Homo sapiens: one gene and its partner. The protein of the gene in region 1 interacts with the protein of each later gene in a biochemical or structural test. Each region holds a gene or a part of one and is shown on either strand. Other genes may lie near its edges.

The links.
Region 2: of the proteins of MLKL (region 1) and CYLD, one has a biochemical effect on the other in vitro, tested with the Homo sapiens proteins (one study listed by BioGRID).

Annotation. Positions count from the first base shown.
Region 1 is NC_000016.10:74,696,428-74,705,218, forward strand, and holds the start of MLKL (mixed lineage kinase domain-like protein), read right to left. Parts: upstream 4,436-8,791; 5' UTR 4,026-4,435; intron 1-4,025. UniProt on the Homo sapiens protein: Pseudokinase that plays a key role in TNF-induced necroptosis, a programmed cell death process. Does not have protein kinase activity.
Region 2 is NC_000016.10:50,771,944-50,780,914, reverse strand, and holds part of CYLD (ubiquitin carboxyl-terminal hydrolase CYLD), read right to left. Parts: intron 5,750-8,971; coding exon 5,741-5,749; intron 4,737-5,740; coding exon 4,638-4,736; intron 3,091-4,637; coding exon 2,974-3,090; intron 1,251-2,973; coding exon 871-1,250; intron 1-870. UniProt on the Homo sapiens protein: Deubiquitinase that specifically cleaves 'Lys-63'- and linear 'Met-1'-linked polyubiquitin chains and is involved in NF-kappa-B activation and TNF-alpha-induced necroptosis.

The DNA of each region.
Region 1 (8,791 bases):
TAAAACATGTGGACTATCTTTCATTTTTCCTACAAAAAATTGTTCAGTTTCTTCCTACAGTCCTTTAAGAAAAATGCAGCTGGGCGAGGTGGCTCCCACCGATAATCCCAGCACTTTGAGAGGAAGAGACAGGAGGATTGCTTGAGGCCAGGAGTTCCAGACCAGTCTGGACAGCAAAGTGAGACCCTTTCTCTACAAAAATAAAAAAAATAAAATAAAATAAAATGAAATAAATAAAATATAAAATTGGCTGGGCGCGGTGACTCACGCCAGTAATCCCAGCACTTTGGAAGGCTGAGGTGGGCGGATCACTTGAGGTCAGGAGTTGGAAACCAGCCTGGCCAACATGGTGAAACCCCGTCTCTACTAAAAATACAAAAATTAGCTAGGTGTGGTGGTGCATGCCTGTAATCCCAGCTACTCGGAGGGCTAAGCCAGGAGAATTGCTTGAACCCAGGGGGTGGAGGTTGCACCATCTCAAAAAAATGTAATACATTACATATATATAGTAATATATATAATATTACATATATATAGTAATATATATGTAATATTACATATATAGTAATACATATATATAATATTACATATATATAGTAATACATATATATAATATTACATATATATTATATATATAAGTTAGCCTGGTGTGGTGGCACACACCCGTAGTCTCAGCTACCTGGGAAGTTGAGATAGGAGGATTCCTTGAGTCCAGGAGGTTGAGGCTGCAGTGCCAGCTTCCTACTCTTAACCTCTCTCTCTTCTCTGAACATGAGTGAGGAAGCACAGAGCCCTGATCCTAAAGCTTGGAATGAGGCTAACCTGAGCATGGTAGAATGGAAAGGGAGAAAGAATCTGAGTCTTTGATGACAACATTGAGCCACTGGTTTGAACTGACATGAAGTGTACCCCATCCCCTAACTGCAGGTTTCATGAACCAATAACCTCCCTGATTGTTTAAGGCAGTTTGAATCATGTTTGCTTTATTTGCAACTGAAGCCGACTGCGTTCAGCAATGAATGATGATAATAATTATGACACTAGATCTCTCAATTCACCTACTACATCCTAAGTGCTTTGGAACCCCCAGCTCTCCATGGTTATTTTCATTTAACAGATGAAGATACCATCTGGGCACAGTAGTTCATACCCGTAATCCCAACATTTTGGGAGGTAGAGGTGGGAAGATTGCTTGAGGCCAGGAGTTCCATTCTGGGCAACACAGCGAGACCCATCTCTACTAAAAATACAAAAATTAGCTGGGACCTGTAGTCCCAGCTACTCAGGAGGCTGAGGCGGGAGAATCGCTTGAGCCTGGGAGGTTGAGGCTGCAGTGAGCTATGATGACACCACTGCACTCCAGCCAGGGAAACAGAGAGACCCTGTCTCGAAAAAACAAACAGGTGAAAAGTGAAGATGCTGCGGTTCAGGGAGGTTGCATTCAAATAATCACAAGGCCATGGAACCAGTTTTCAAAGTATTTAAAATAAAGTTAGGGTAGGGTGTCATGACTCAAACCTGTAATCCCAGCACTTTGTGAGGCTGAGGCCAGGGGATCGTATGAGCCTGAGTTCGAGACCAGCCTGGGCAACATGGTGAAACCCTGTCTCTACAAAAAAATACAAAAATTTGCTGGATGTGGTGGTGCTTGCCTGTAGTCCCAGCTACTCTGGAGCCTGAGGAGGGAGAATTGATTGAGGCTGGGAGGTCGAGGCTGCAGTGAGCCATGATTGTGCCACTGACTCCATTCCAGCATGGGCAACAGAATGAGACAGTGTCTCAAAAACACCACCACCACCACCACTAACAAACGACAACAAAAAACAAAGTTAGTTTTTTTTTTTTTAACAGCTCAGTGAAATAGGTAGGTTAAGTATTATCGCCAGTTTATGGATTAATTAGCAGCTTGGAGAAAATAATTGGCCTGGAGCCCAAGTATGGCTTTAAAACATGAGTAAGGCACTGGCAGAAGTGAAACTAAATAAATGAGCAATCGATATAGTTGTGTTTTTGTTGCCTGAGAGTTACAGTGATTGGGCAAGGGAGGTAACAGTTATTAGGGCACTCCTAAAAAGACTAGTGGATCTCAGACTACCCAGCTATTCCCACGTGCTAAGCAGATATCTTCAAGGCCATTTCTTGGGAATTGTGAGGGCAAAAGGTTTTACACTTTCTCTGTTGCACCAGAAACAGAAGCAAATGTGGCAATGTTGTTCAAGGAATCTTGCAAATTGTAGCTTCCTAGCTCTAAGCTCCAGTTATCTTACCAGCAGCCTCATCAGAAAGCCATATCTCAGCACTGAACTAATCAGAAAGGAAAATGGGGAAAATATCCCACCCATAGAACTGACAAACAATTTCAAATAATAAATTATACAGTGGTGGCATGGTATGAAGAAAATTGCAGCGGTCACATTGGCTCATGCCTGTAATCTCAGCGCTTTGGAAGGCCGAGGCAGGTGGATCACCTGAGGTCGGGAGTTTGAGATCGCCCGGCCAACATGGTGAAACCCCATCTCTACTAAAAATACTAAAATTAGCCAAGCATGGTAGCAGGCGCCTGTAATCCCAGCTACTCGGGAGGCTGAGGCAGGAGAATTGCTTGAACCCGGGAGGTGGAGGTTGCACTGAGCCGAGATCACACCACTGTGCTCCAACCTGGGCAACAGAGCAAAACTCCGTCTCAAAAACAAAAACAAAAACAAAAAAAAAGAAAGAAAGAAAATTGCACAAAACAAAGCTTGAAGAAAGGAGGAAAGAGAAGTGTTATATTTCTGGCTGGGAAGACTAAAACAGACCAACCCAGCAATCCTTCCCAAATTTAAATCCAATTTAATGCAGTTCCAATAAAACATCTACTGACATATTTTGGCATTAAATCAAAATGATCCTAAAGTTCATTTGAAATGGGAAATTAGTAGGGATAACCAGGATTTTAAAAAATAAAGAAAAGGGGACTTGCCTGTATGAAATTAAAATATATTAAAAACTGCAAAATATTGGGAAAAAGCACCCTACAATAACTTAAATTGTTTAAGGTCTTATTAAGTATATGATCTACAAGGGAAGAAAGGGAATATACATATATACACACTTAGACTGGGCAATTTGAATTTCTAGGAACTTATGATGTAGAAAAGCTTGTGTTTGTAGATAGATGGCTACCGAGATGTTCACTGCAGTGCTATTTATAATATGTAAAACAAACAGCTAAGAATATGTTCAGGCCAGCTGCAGTGGCTCACACCTGTAATCCCAGCACTTTGGGAGGGTGAGGTAGGAGGATCACCTGAGCCCAGGAGTTTGAGACCAGCCTGGGTGACAAAGCGAGACCCTGGCTCTACCAAAAAATACAAAAAAAATTTAATTGGGTGTGGTGATGTGCACCTTGTAGTCCTAGCTACTTGGGAGGATCTGGTTGGAGGATCACTTGAGCCCATGAGTTCGGAGGCTGCAGTGAGCTATGATTGTGCCACTGCGCTCCAGCCTGGGCAACAGAGGAAGACTCCATCTCTCAAAATAAATAAATAAAAAGAAAAAGGGGATTATGTTCATATGTTACGATGAGAAAACAGGTTACTAATTTTAAAAGTGAAAAATCTTTAAATGGTAATAACAATGCAAATTCACCTCTTCCCTCCAAAAAATAAAAAATAAAAATAAAATAAAATAAGTAAAGGTTATCAGGCATTTCCCTCTTCTCTCTCTCTCACTCTGTCTCTCTCTCACGCCTTCAGCCTGCAAACCTGAAGACTTCCTTTTTCTGAGAAGACATCAGGTAACTTGTTCCCGTGCCCCTGCCCTCCACGACCCCCACTGCTACTGGGCGTCTCGCTTTGGCGGAAGGTAGTGCGAGATCCGAGCAGGCAGCTCCACCATCAGAGCTGAGGAAATGAAACCAACTCGGTCCTGAGTTCCAGGAACTCGGACCGGGCCACCCTCACCCCTGGTTCTTCCCATCACCGTCCAGGAATTCGGCTGCAGCCCCTCGGCCCCGCCGCCTCCTGGGAAGACCCCATGCTCACCTTCGCGCCTCCCGAGGGGTGTGCGTCCAATCTGTCCCGTGCACAGTTCCAAAAAGCTCGCTCTTCCACCTTCTTTCCCACGACCGCCTCCTGCCCAGGCGAGAAGTTTGCAAACGCGAGGCCCGCGGGAGTTCCCCTGCGCCCCCTTTCCTGGTGCCCGCACCCTGCACTCTGCTGACTGTACCGGACGCCACACGTGGCTGGCGGCGACAAGGCGCCCCGATCCCTACCTGAGGGAAACCCCGGCCACTGCAGCTGCACTTGAGCAGGGTCCCTCCACTCAGCCACTTGGATGGCTGTTTCTGTCCAGTGCCCTCCGGAGGCCACTGCCTCAGGTCTGTGATGCCTGCAGAGAATGCTGCGACACTTCCCCCTCCGACGTGGCTCCAGCTGCCAACCACCAGGCTCACGGTGCCCTGGCTCCCTGGAGCCGCTTTCTAGGCAGCTCGGAGCCACGGCCCCTCCCTTCCTTCCTCCTGTCCTTTCCACACTCTTCCTGCCTTCCCCAAAGTCACTGGGTAACTACGCTGTACACGTCAGTACCAAGCCTTCTTTAGGGGCTGGGGATTCAGAATAGAATAAGGTCCCAGCAACTATTATAACCAGGACACAGTATGAGAAGGACTGGAAGTTTAGAGAAAAACTGAAAGTTGGAGAGAAGCTTCTGGTGTTTGCTTCTCTGTGCTGGATAATATTGGCGGGGTGGGGAGGGTACGAGGGAAGAGACACCAAAGTGGGAAAAAAGTCACTTCCTCTTCTAAGGTCATTGCAGAACATCCTGTTACAGTGTGAGTCAGGTTTTCTTAAGATTAACTACATCTTCAGCTAGAAAGTCTAAGTAGTGTTATGCATTTACTCAACAGACTATTTGCCTCTAAAAGAACAGAACTGGGAGCTGGGTGTGGTGGCTCATGCCTGTAATTCCAGCACTTTGGGAGGCGGAGGTGGCCAGATCACCTGAGGTCAGGAGTTCAAGACCATCCTGGCCAACATGGGGAAACCCTGTCTCTACTAAAAATACAAAAATTAGCCAGGCGTGGTGGTGCATGCCTGTAATCCCAGCTACTCGGGAGCCTGAGAGGGGAGAATCGCTTGAAGCCGGCCTTGGAGATTCATTTCTTCGCCTTGCTATTGTTCTTCGTCTCCTGCATCATCAGTTTTCTTCCTGTCTTAGGTGAAGAGATTGAGGTGAGGCAGGAGAATAGGGTCTGCAGGCAGGGAACATAAAGCTGATTCACGCTGACTTCTTAGAACTAAATAAAATGGACACATTTCAGCTATGACAGGAAATATTTTCTTCATTTACATATGGCGTTCACTGAGTAAGTGACTGAGCAACTTCACTTCATCTTCTTCATTTACATAGGGTGTACACCAATTAACCAATGGGAGCCTCTAGAGGGTATTTAAATCCCAGAAAATTCTGTAACGGAGTTCTTGAGCCCCTATGCTCACGCTGGCTCCCACCCTGTGGAGTGTACCTTTGTTTTCAATACATCTCTGCTTTTGTTGCCTCATTCTTTCCTTGCTTTGTGCATTTTGCCCATTTCTTTGTTCAAGATGCCAAGAACCTGGACACCTTCAACAAGTAACACAGGTGCCTGTGATTTATTGAAGGAAGACTCTTAGGAGAGTGGTGGGTATGATAGGGCAGAGGAAGAAAAAGTGAAACAAGTATGTAGTCAGTGGAGGCTCCATGGGGAGGTCTGGAATGTGAAGGTCTGGAACAAGAGGCAGCCTCCTTTCTGCCCAGGGCAATTCTTCTGGACGAGGGGGAAGCTGTGTGAGTGTTTAGCTGTCAACACTCATAGCAGCTGCAGGATGGGTATACTGATCTGCTATAAACAAAATCATACAATGTATAACCTTTTGGAAGTTTTTTTCTTTTCTTTTCTTTTTTTTTTTTTTTACTGTCCCACCATCAATGTACAAGACATTCAGTTTCTCTGCATCCTCAGCAGCATTTTATTTTGTCCCTGCCTGAATTTTTAGCTATTCTAACAGGTGAATAGTGATATATCATCATGGTTTTTTGTTTTGTTTTGTTTTGAGATAGAGTCTTACTCTGTTGCCCAGGCTGGAGTGCAGTGGCGCCATCTCAGCTCACTGCAACCTCCACCTCCTGGGTTCAAGCGATTCTCCAGCCTCAGCCTCCCAAGTAGCTGGGACTACAGGCGTGCACCACCACACCTGTCTATTTTTTGTATTTTTAGTAGAGACAGCGTTTCGCCATATTGGCCAGACTGGTCTCGAACTCCTGACCTCAGGTGATCCACCCACCTTGGCCTCCCAAAGTGCTGGGATTATAGGCATGAGCCACTGCGCCTGGTCTCATCATGGTTTTAATTGGCATTTCTTTAGTGCCTGGTGATGATGGACATGTTTTCATGTGCTTGTTTGCCATCTGTATAGCCTCATTGGTGAAATGTCTGTCCATGTCTTTTGCCCATTTTTAGTTGAATTCTTTTTAAAAAACTTGAGTTTTGAGAGTTTAAATATTCTAGATATTAATCCTTTGCCAGATAGGTGGTGTTCAAATGGTGGTGGAGTAACTGAACAAAAAAATGAACTTCACCTAAACCTCATATTCTATGCAAAAATTGCCTGAATGGATCAGAGATTTAAATGTAAAATGTAAAACAAGGAACCTTTTAGAAGAAAGCAGAGAGAACTGTGCAGAATGAAAGGACATTTCCTGTTGAGAAAATGTAAATGTTTGAAAAAAGTTTAGGGCCGGTCGCAGTGGCTCACGCCTGTAATCCCAGCACTTTGGGAGGCCGAGGTGGGCGGATCACGAGGTCAGGAGATTAAGACCATCCTGGCTAACACGGTGAAACCCCATCTCTACTAAAAATACAAAAAAAAATTAGCCGGATGTGGTGGCGGGTGCCTGTAGTCCCAGCTACTCGGGAGGCTGAGGCAGGAGAACGATGTGAACCCAGGAGGCGGAGCTTGCAGTGAGCCGAGATCGCGCCATTGCACACCAGCCTGGGTGGCAGAGTGAGACTCCGTCTCAAAAAAAAAAAAAAAAAAAAAGAAAAGAAAAAAGTTTAAATGAGCCCTTTAAAATGTTTTTATTTTTAGTAGAGACAGAGGTCTCCCTGTGTTGCTGAGGCTGATCTTGAACTTCTGAACTCAAGCAATCCTCATGCCTTGGCCCCCCAAAGTGTTGGGATTACGAGCTTGAGCCACCTTGCCTGGCCAAATGAGTCTATTTAATAAGAATGGCTATTCATACTAAAAATTGTACAATATTAAAAATAATTCCCAGTTTCTTTGGCTTTATCTTGGAGTTGCCATTTGAAAAAAAAAATCACAAACATTTGAAAAAAAAAAAAACTTGTAGAACATGTAGAAGAAAATCTTCAGAACCTAAGGCTAGGCGAAGAATTCTTAGGCATAACATCAAAGCCATTATTATTCTTTCTTCTTTTCTTTTTCTTTCTTTTTTTTTTTTTTGAGACGGAGTCTCCCTCTGTTGCCAGGCTGTAGTGCAGTGCTGTGATCTCAGCTTACTGCAACCTCCACCTCCAGGGCTCAAACAATTCTCCTGCCTCAGCCTTCCAACAAGCTGGGACTACAGGCATGTGCCACCACGCTTGGCTAGTTTTTTTTTGTATTTTTAGTAGAGATGGAGTTTTAGCATGTTGGCCAGGCTGGTCTCGAACTCCTGACCTCAAGTGATCTACCTGCCTTGGCCTCCCAAAGTGCTGGGATTACAGGCATGAGCCACTGCGCCTGGCCCCAAAGCCATTATTCTTAAAATTAAAAAATGATAAATCAGACTTGATCAAAATTTGAAACTTGCTCTGCAAAGACCCTTTTAAGGGGATGAAAAGACAAGTTACAGATTGGGAGAAAATGTTTGCAAATCACATGTCAAATAATATGCTTCTAAATAATTCATGAGTCAAAAAGGACATTTTCTCAAGAGAAATGAAGATATATTTTGCTCAATAAATTTAAACAGATCAAAATCATACAAAGCATCTTCTTTGACCACAATAGAATAAAACTAGAAATAAATAACAGAAAGAGAACTGGAATATTCACAAATATGCAGAAATTAAACAACATACACTTAAACAACTAGTGGGACAAAGAAGAAATCACAAGGGAAATTAGAAAATACTTCGAGACAAATAAAAGATACAACATGCCAAAACTTAGGGGATGCAGCAAAAACAGTTCTCAAAGGATAATTTATAGCTACATGGCTACAAAAGAGAAAAAGAGAGAGGCCTGGTGCCGTGGCTCATGCCTGTAATCCCAGCACTTTGGGAGGCTGAGGCGGGTGGATCACGAGGTTAGGAGTTCAAGACCAGCCTGGCCAACACGGTGAAACCCCGTCTGCTAAAAATACAAAAAAAAAAAAAAAAAAAATAGCCCGACGTGATGGCGGGCACCTGTAATCTCAGCTACTCAGGCGGCTGAGGCAGGAGAATCGCTTGAACCCAGGAGGCAGAGGTTGTAGTGAGCCAAGATCATGCCACTGCACTCCAGCCTGGGTGACAGAGTGAGACTCCATCTCAAAAAAAAAAAAAAAAAAAAGAGAGAGAGAGATCTCAAATCATTATCCCAACTCTACCCTTTAAGGAACTAGTAAAAGAAGAACAAATCAAACCCAAAACTAGCAGAAGGGAGGAAATTACCAAGATCAGAAAAGAGAAAATCAATGAAACTGAAAGTTAGTTCTTTGAAAAGATTAATAAAATTGACGAATCCTTAGCTAAACTAAAACAAAAAGAAGATGAAAATAACTTAAA
Region 2 (8,971 bases), about 24 Mb from region 1:
TAACCCTCATTCTTGCCTCCCCACCATGCCCCATAAGATAGTATTCACTAGCATGGAAACAAACAAGAAAAAAAAAAAAAGAAATATATTTAAATTGGCCAGGTGTGGTGGCTCATGCCCATAATCCTAGCACTTTAGGAGGCCAAGGCGGGCAGATCACTTGAGTCCAGGAGTTTGAGACCAGCCTGGGCAACATGGCAAAACCCTGTCTCTACTAAAAATACAAAAAATTACCAAGCATGATGGTACATGTCTGTAATTCCAGCTACTCAGGTGACTGAGGCAGGAGAATAGCTTGAGCCCAGGAGGTCGAGGCTGCAGTGAGCCCTGACCGTGCTACTGCACTCCAGTCTGGGTGACAGAGTGAGACCCCATCTCTAAATAAATCCTAAACATACTCAACTTCTCCTTTCCTGATTACAAAATATCAAATGATATGTTCTCCTGATCTCTAAAGGGAAAACCTTTCCCTCTAGCAAAGGTCTCAAAAGATCTCTAAAAATGGTGATTAACTTTAAAGCCAGTGATATAATTATTAGAACTGACCAGGGGAAGGGGCTGAAGAAGAAAGAGAAAAGCTGATGGCAAATTTGCTTGATTTACTAAATTCTGTTTAATATAAGGAGCCTAAATCGATTGGCCTAAAAATCAACTTTCATTCCTTGAACATAAATCAACTAACATTAGGACAAGTGGGTCGCAAGCTTCAGGGGCGGCAAAGGGAAGTCAGAAAACATGGTGAGAAAATTATTCTGCAGTGATAGCTTTTCTGACAAATATAACAGTTTGTCAAAAAGCATATAATAGGGCGAAATCTGCACAAAACCTCACAGAGAAAAAAATTGAAATTTTTGGGTCAAGTTAAATTACCAGTTCCAGTCCAGCGAGCACTTCATTCAGTCCTGGTGGCTGACCGATCCAACGGATTACCCCATAGAAAGGAGGGTTCTCCTTAACTTCAGCCAATGAGCCCACTTCTAGACCATGTGAGTTCCCAGGAGGCATGGCCAAGGGTGGACTCTCTTGGACGGGTGCAGTGTTTAGCTCTTCCATTACAGACTGGGCTGACAGAGAAAGTGGACTGTGGCCAATACTTCCATTGGTATTGGGCATCTTGGTGAGACTGAATGGTAAAGAGTGGAATCTGTTCTCGGTGGTCAGTGAGTTCACAGGAGGAGGCTGGAGTGGTGGTGAAGAACGGTCAAAGTCTGTAGATATCTCTGTAAGAGATTTTGCAGGGTCTTCTGCAACTAAAAAATTATTCCTAATTACAGAAATGTATTCAAGGATATTGACTCTGTCTTACATTTCTAAAAATTTATATACAGATCTAGTCCAACTGCCCACCTGACCTCCCTGCTATTAATAGTACTCTCATAGGCATCACAAAGTTATTATCTCCAACAGTGTTCTCGCTCCTCTCTCCACCTCCATATTTATGCACCTCAGTCAATGGCACCCAACTGTTCAAACCAAAAAAATCTATTATCAGCGGGTATCGTATACGTGATAGTCTTTGTCCAAAATACAATTAATTGAGAAGGCAGTACAAAAAGATACCGAAAACCTTAAGAAACGCTTCTATATATCTAATGGATCAAAAAAGAAATAATACGTTTTAACAATAAAGAAAAAAGAGAGAAAAAGTAACAAAGAAAGAAAGAATCCTTGTGAAACATGGCTAAATTAATACTTATAAGGGAATTTTATAGACTTCATTGCTTATTTCAGAAAAAAACAAAAGCTAAATATGAACTCAGCATACAACTTGGGAAGTTAAAAGAACAGAATAACCCTCAAAAAAGTAGAGAAGAATAAACTAAAGAACAGAAACAACAGAAGAGAGAAAACAAACATACAATAAGAAGTTCAAAGCCAGAATAAACACAAACACAGAATGTAATTTAAGAGAAACCAAACACATGATAAAGAGAGCCACAGCCAAAAGCTATTTTCTTAAAATGACTAATACAGCTGACAGGCAGGTATTGCAGATCAATGACAAAAGAATGAACTTCTTACTAAATGCTGTTGAGATAATTGGTTATCCATATTTTTAAAAAAAAATTAAACAGGAATCCTACTCATACTTTACATGAAAATCAGCTCCAGGTGCCTTAAAAACAAATGTGGCAGGCAAAACTCTAAAGGCTGGGAGACCACAGAGTCAGGCCTGTTTGCCTTTCCATTCTCATCTCATGAATGTCATGCCTCTGTCTGTGTTCTAGTCCCTGGCAAACACTAGCTTCCATTCTTCCAGGAGGACTTTCCCTATGCTATTTCTTCTCCCGAGGAAGTTCTAGCCCCTTTCACTTTGTCATCTGTCACTCCTCTGGTAAACCTAAGCATGTGTCACTGCCCCAAAGAAACACCCCTAAGACCCTGAGAAAAATCATCTTTGGTGTATTCTCACAGCATCATGCACCTTCACTGCACACACCACCAAGGCAACTCTACTGTGTCTGTGGTTGTTTGACTAATTTCTATCTCAACAACTTAACAACTGCAAACTCACAAAGGGCATGAACCATGTCTATTTTTTCTCACCATTTTCATCTTGATGCCTAAAAGAATGCCTGGCAATCATAAGCACTCAATAAATATTTGTTGAACAAATGAACAAAGAAGAGAATAAACTAGGTGAAAATGATGTCCCAGGACCAAGGGAAGATAAAATTTTTTAAAAGGGAGTGCTTTAAAGAGGTCAGGAAGGAACCAGACAGAAATCTTCCACCCTAAATAGATCAGCAGTTAAAGGAAAAGAACAAATTACTAATACATTTCTTAAACATTTTAATAATCTTAACAGCAGTACGGTTCAAACTGTGTACAATATTTTAGTTCAGCAATATTACAAAGAGCGGTCTACTTATTCTGTTTCCAAAAACTACAAATATTGATATAAAAAACCATTTTTCTCTGATGAGTTAGAAAGAAAGGATCATTATAAAGAACACTAAAATTACTGATTACCTTCATCAATGTACCATGTATTTTTTGATTTGGATTGTGGTTGTGAGTCAACAGAAGACCCATTTAAGGTATAAAATAATTCAGATCTGTTTCTATTTCCAGGGTCTGAGGTAGATCCTATAGGAACAAGAAAAGTTTCATTTAAAAATAAAGTCAATATAGCATCAAAGTTTTTTTTTAGTAAGAGAAATTATTATGAATATGATGTTAATAACTGTTTACATAACCAATAAATGTATATAAACACAATATGTTTTTTAACTGTCTTCAGCTTTTAAAAATTTGGTAACCATTTTGACAATATTAAAAATATTTTTCAGCCCAAAAGTCAAGATAGGAGGGAAACAGGAGTAAGTTAAAAGAAAAGCCCACTCATTTTTAAAAAAAATGAACTGCTTTAAGAAATTGTTCCATGTACCACAGCTTATTTCTAAATGTCAAAATCACCATTCTCCAGCTTCATTTCATAGACCCATTGGTTCACAAATTTAACCTATTATTTTAAAAGAAGGTAATCCTCAAATTCTATATATAAATCAATACACAAATTACATTTAAAAATAGTTAAGTTTTAAACATTTTGGAATTTTTGGTCATCAAATTCCTTGTGTCTTTGAAAAAATCAAGCACTATTATTTCTTACAGATTGGATTTATTATACGTGAGAGGGCGAGTGTAGCTATGCCACAGCCATTTCATGACATTACCCTGCCTCAGTATTAATTCAAGGACATACCACACACAGTGGAGGGCAGTGGGCTCTCCAGAACCCACAAAAAAGCTGATTTCCCTTTTCAAATTAAAGCAGGTAGCTGTACATTTTATAACTTTAAGATCTACTACAATACAATTAACATGCCATAGCTTAAGAAAATCTTTAGTCTGTTTCTATTTAAGTGAGAGTAGCAAGTTTGAGCTATCCTATATAGATCTATAGGTTAACATAAAAAAGACTGTTACCTATATATCCTGCAATTAATCCTAAGTCTCCCAGGCCCCAATGTCACATAAAATAATTCTTAAAGTACAATTTCCTTTTAAATGAGCCAAAATTGTAATAATTGAGGAAAAAATATTCTTTTCCTAACTCGCATCTGAGTTAACAAAAATTCTCAGAGCCTTTTTAATGAGCTCTTTGGCTTGTATAACTACTATTCTATAAATCTATGAAGTATGTGGAAGCTAACAAAAAAAAGAGCTGTAAGCTCCACACATATTGTGAGGAAGCTTCTGGGAAAGAGAAGAAATTTTTGCTTAGCAGTTTGGGATTTAATTTGTACCAAATCTAGTTAGCAAAATCCATTTAATTAACCTCTAGTATACTTTATCCTATATAACATTATCCATATAGGATTATTTTACACAGTTGCAATCCTAAACTATACATACAAATATTCCAAGTAAGGAGTTCCAAAAACCATTTGATTATAGACCAGCAAAACACACAAGACCCTATGGGGAACTCTTCCTGAGGTAAAAAAGGCTGGGAACACTTGGCTTAAGCAACAGTATTTATATACAAACTTTAGTTTCACTACTAAAAATGTTTGAAAGAAAAAAAGTCTACATACATGTTCAGAAGTAATAGCTTATAATCTTTTTTAATGCTATGGCAAGTTAGGCATTATGCAAATTACTAAAGGTTATATGCTATTAATCCATACCTGTAGCCTTTGGTTTATTATGACTGGATGAACCTTTGTCCCCAACACCTCTTGACATAAAGGCAAGTTTGGGAGGCCTCCTTTCCTGCGTCACACTCTCTGAAACAGTAAGCATGTTTTTTAAAGATAAAGGCAAATTCTTATAGAAGAGAAACAAGGAATGACAGTAACAAAATAAAAAAACCCTCTTTCCACAAAAAGGCAGAATTTTTAGTTTTACAAATGCCTTTTAAAGGCCATCAAAAGTATTGAAAAAGATAATACTATGGGGGAAAAAACCAATGCTGTATTTCAAAATGTAATTTCTATAAGAAAATACCCTCTCAAAATACAATTCAGCTAAATGCTTTAACCTCTTGAAAATTTAATCACTTGTAGTCAATTTTATTTGATCTCTTAAAACACTACAAAGAAAATCTTACTCGGTTTTTTACAGCATTTCCCAAATCAGCAGGCTTAGAACACCCCTGTGTATTATGAAGTGTTTCGAACTCAAATATTTCTTGAAGATGCTGAGATAAACAAAGATAAACAATTTCTTTACTGCACGGAACCAGAGCCTTTAATATGCTAATGTGCATTGTGAACTGCTCAGGGAGAAACAAAATAAACTTATTGATAAAAATTTTTGTGCCACTTTGCTTAGCATCTCAGATTAATATTATTTCATGAACACAGTTTGAAAAAAGCCTGGTTAGGAATATGTATCATGGTTAGGAAAGAAAGTTCTGGTTAAGAACATATATCTGTTTTTAAAAACATATATGTTAAGAATAACACAGATGTGTATACAAACACTTATACATATAAAAGAGGAAAACATAGAGAATTATGCATAGATTAAAAATACAGAAAGCCAGAGACACACAACAATAATATATTTGAAGAAAACACTCACAATTATTTCTGAAATATAGGTGTAATAAGTGTGGCAAACTTGTTTTGAATACAAAGACCACTCTAGACCTTAAAGCCCAGCAATGATCATAGAATACTCCTAAATACTGATCAAGGGAATGTAGAAGAGGCAGTGTGAAAAGTTCTTCCTTTGAAAAATTCAACAATACATCCGTGGAGTCCAACACGACACTTAGGAGTCATACCTGATAAAGCTGTGTGTCAGCAAAAACGATATCACCCACAGTGGATTTGAGGACAGAAAGAAAGAAATAGGAAAATTTTTACATTTTAAACACAAGGAAAAGACTTTTCTTAAAAAAAGAGGAAATTTACTAAATGAATTATATGTAAATACTTGGTAACTTTTTTCCATGGTTGAAAGAGGAGGGGGATGTGTTATTAAACTATATCTTAAACATCTCATAATATGATCCAATAGAATATGAAAATATTTTAATTCAAAAATTATACCAATTAACCACGATTTCGATCAAGTGATATAATAAGAGAAAAGCTATGTACTAATACTGTGGTCCCCACTTATCCACACTTTTACCTTCCACGGTATCAGTTACCCACAGTCAACCACTGTCCAAAAATATTAAATAAAAAATTGCAGAAACAGACAATTCGTAAGTTTTAAGTTGCATGCTGTTTTGAGTATTATAACGAAATCTTGCACCATCCTAATCCATAACCCCTGACGTAACCCATCCCCGTCCAGCATCTCCACACTGTGTCTACTCCCTGCCTTGTTAGTCACTTAGTAGCCACCTCAGTCATCAGATCAACTATTGCAGTATCACAGTGCTTACATTCAAGTCACCCTTATTTTACTTAATAATAGTCCTGAAGTACACGAGTAGTGATGTTGCCATATTGTTATTATTGTCTCTTCTCTGATTATTGTTTTCAATATCTTATTGTGCCTAATATATAAATTAAACTTTATCAGAGGCATGAATGTAGAGGAAAAACACAGTATACGTAGGGTTCAGTACTATCCATAGTTTCAGGTATCCACTGGGGGTCTTGGAAGTATCCCTTGATGAAAGAGGAGACCACTGTTCTTTTATGATGTTGTCATTCAGATATCTTTAAATAGCACCCATGACAGATACTTCAGAAGGAAAATCTTAGTCACTGAGAAGAGTTCCTAAATTATAGCATATAAATTTCCTAAAGAAAAACAACTCCCACTATTAACTGTAATTAACTGCATATAACATTTTTAAAGTATGTTCACATGTATACCACGATATAGATCCATTATATAGTTAGTAACCATTATAACAAATGAAGCAAGTGCTCTTCCCTTTGTTAGGCTTTGAAGGTAGCCTGGCAGGACTGGAGAGCCAACTGGATGGCCGGTGGTGACAGTTCTGCAGGTGACACTAGGGAGGAGCTCCAAAGATTAGGAATGTGAGCAGGGGGGCACTGGAGTTGGAAACTGTGGCTACCTTCTGTCAAAGGCTGTCTGAGAGGGGGTCAAATATCAGCTCTGAAGAAGAAGACATTCCATCAGAATTCTATACAGACAAAGGGGCACAAACCACCTCTAATTGCCCTCCAGCAATTACACACCAAATATTTCTTATTACTTTGTCACAACTGTGTTCATGGCCCAAAACTACTTGGGTCATGAAGCAAAGCTTTCAAAGTTAAATGAATTATAAGTGATTACCAACTCAGAAAAAGATAAATATGGGATGGAAAGCAAGGTAAGATAAATTCAGCTGGCAATTTTGTGTGATTAAAACAAACCTGATTAAAGATATTAAAAGATATAGAAGATAATTCCACCAAACAGCATGAGTAAAAATGTACAGAGCAGCCCTATTCATTCTAATCAAAAGCTGGAAACAAGCTATTCTACAGAAGAATAGAGAAACAAATTATGGTCTATTCATACAATGGAATACTACATAGCAATAAAAAAGGAACAAACTACTGATAAACAGGGCAACATGGACATTGTGTTCAGCAAAAGAAACCAAACCAAAAGTATCCATTATGTATACACAGCAAGATTGCATTTAAATGATAAAATTCACAGCTTATCCATCACTTGTTGATTTAACCAGAAAAAGAAAAATCCCTTGGAGAATCTTGAGCAGGAAATCATAACAATAAACTAGTGAACAAGTTATTGTTCAAATCAAATGAAATGTCTATGAATTTGAATGACCCAGTAAATTAAGAGAAATTGTTTAATTAATGTACCGCTTAACATCAGCAGCCACAAGAGCATAATTCAGACTCAAATGAGAATTTAACATCCACAGAAATCTTGTGAAGAAAATACAGTTTACTTGAGTAGAATGAGGTATTATTAAACCCGATGCCAGAAATATCCTACATAGCAACTATTCAAAAATCTCTAAAAGGTTGGGTTCCTGCTCAGAATAAATATTTTCCATAATAGTATATGAAAAATTCTTCAAGAAATGCTTGAAGGTGCCATATAGATAACACCAAAAGTTGCATGCTGATATCTGGTGCTTCAAATTATCCTTCTTCAGGGCTCCAGCTCTAACTGTCTCATAGGACCAGGAGTACTGCCTATACAGGCAACATTCATGGTGACTCCGATTGACAAGCAATCTCTATGAAAGCCATGTATTACTGTCTATCAAAATGTAAAATGCATAGCAATTCTACTCCTAGGAAGTTATCTTTTTATACTGGCACACATGCTAACTGATACACAGATACAAAGTTATTCACTGAAGCACTGTTTATAACAGCAAAAGATTGAAAACAACCTAAATGCTCATCAGTAGGAGGCTGGTTCAAAAATTATGGTACATGCATAAAATGAAATATAATTCAATGATTTAAACAAAAGACCAAGTATACAACTTATGTACTAATATGAAATAATCTCTAATATCTATTGTTAAGTTAAAAAGGAAGGTGCAACTTCTACTTCTGGGAAGATAAAGTAGATGTACTTCCTATTTCTTTTGCTAAGTACAACTAAAATCTCTAGACATAATATATAAAACAAATATAAGAAGACTTTGAAAGGTAGAGATGAGAAGGTAGACCAGCTAGGAACCTCAAGACCTAAGAAATAACATCACAGAGATTTCCCTCTGGGTTTTCTTCTTGACTACATTCTTATCCCATACTTAGAGATAAAAAAATCAGCACCCTGGAAACATCAATAGGCATAGACAAAAGAAGGCCCCAACCAAAGTTTTGCTCTCTCTAGCCAAAGGATATCAATTCTCCCCAAAGTTATATACAGGTTTAATGTAATTCCTATCAAAATCTCAAGAAGATTTTGTATAGATGTACACAAGATTACTCTAAAATGCATATGGAAAGGCAAAAGATCTAGAATAACTAAAATAATTTTGGAAAAGAATAAAGTAGGAGGAATTAGTTTAATAGATTGCAAGACTTACTAGTTAGCCGCAGTGATCGAG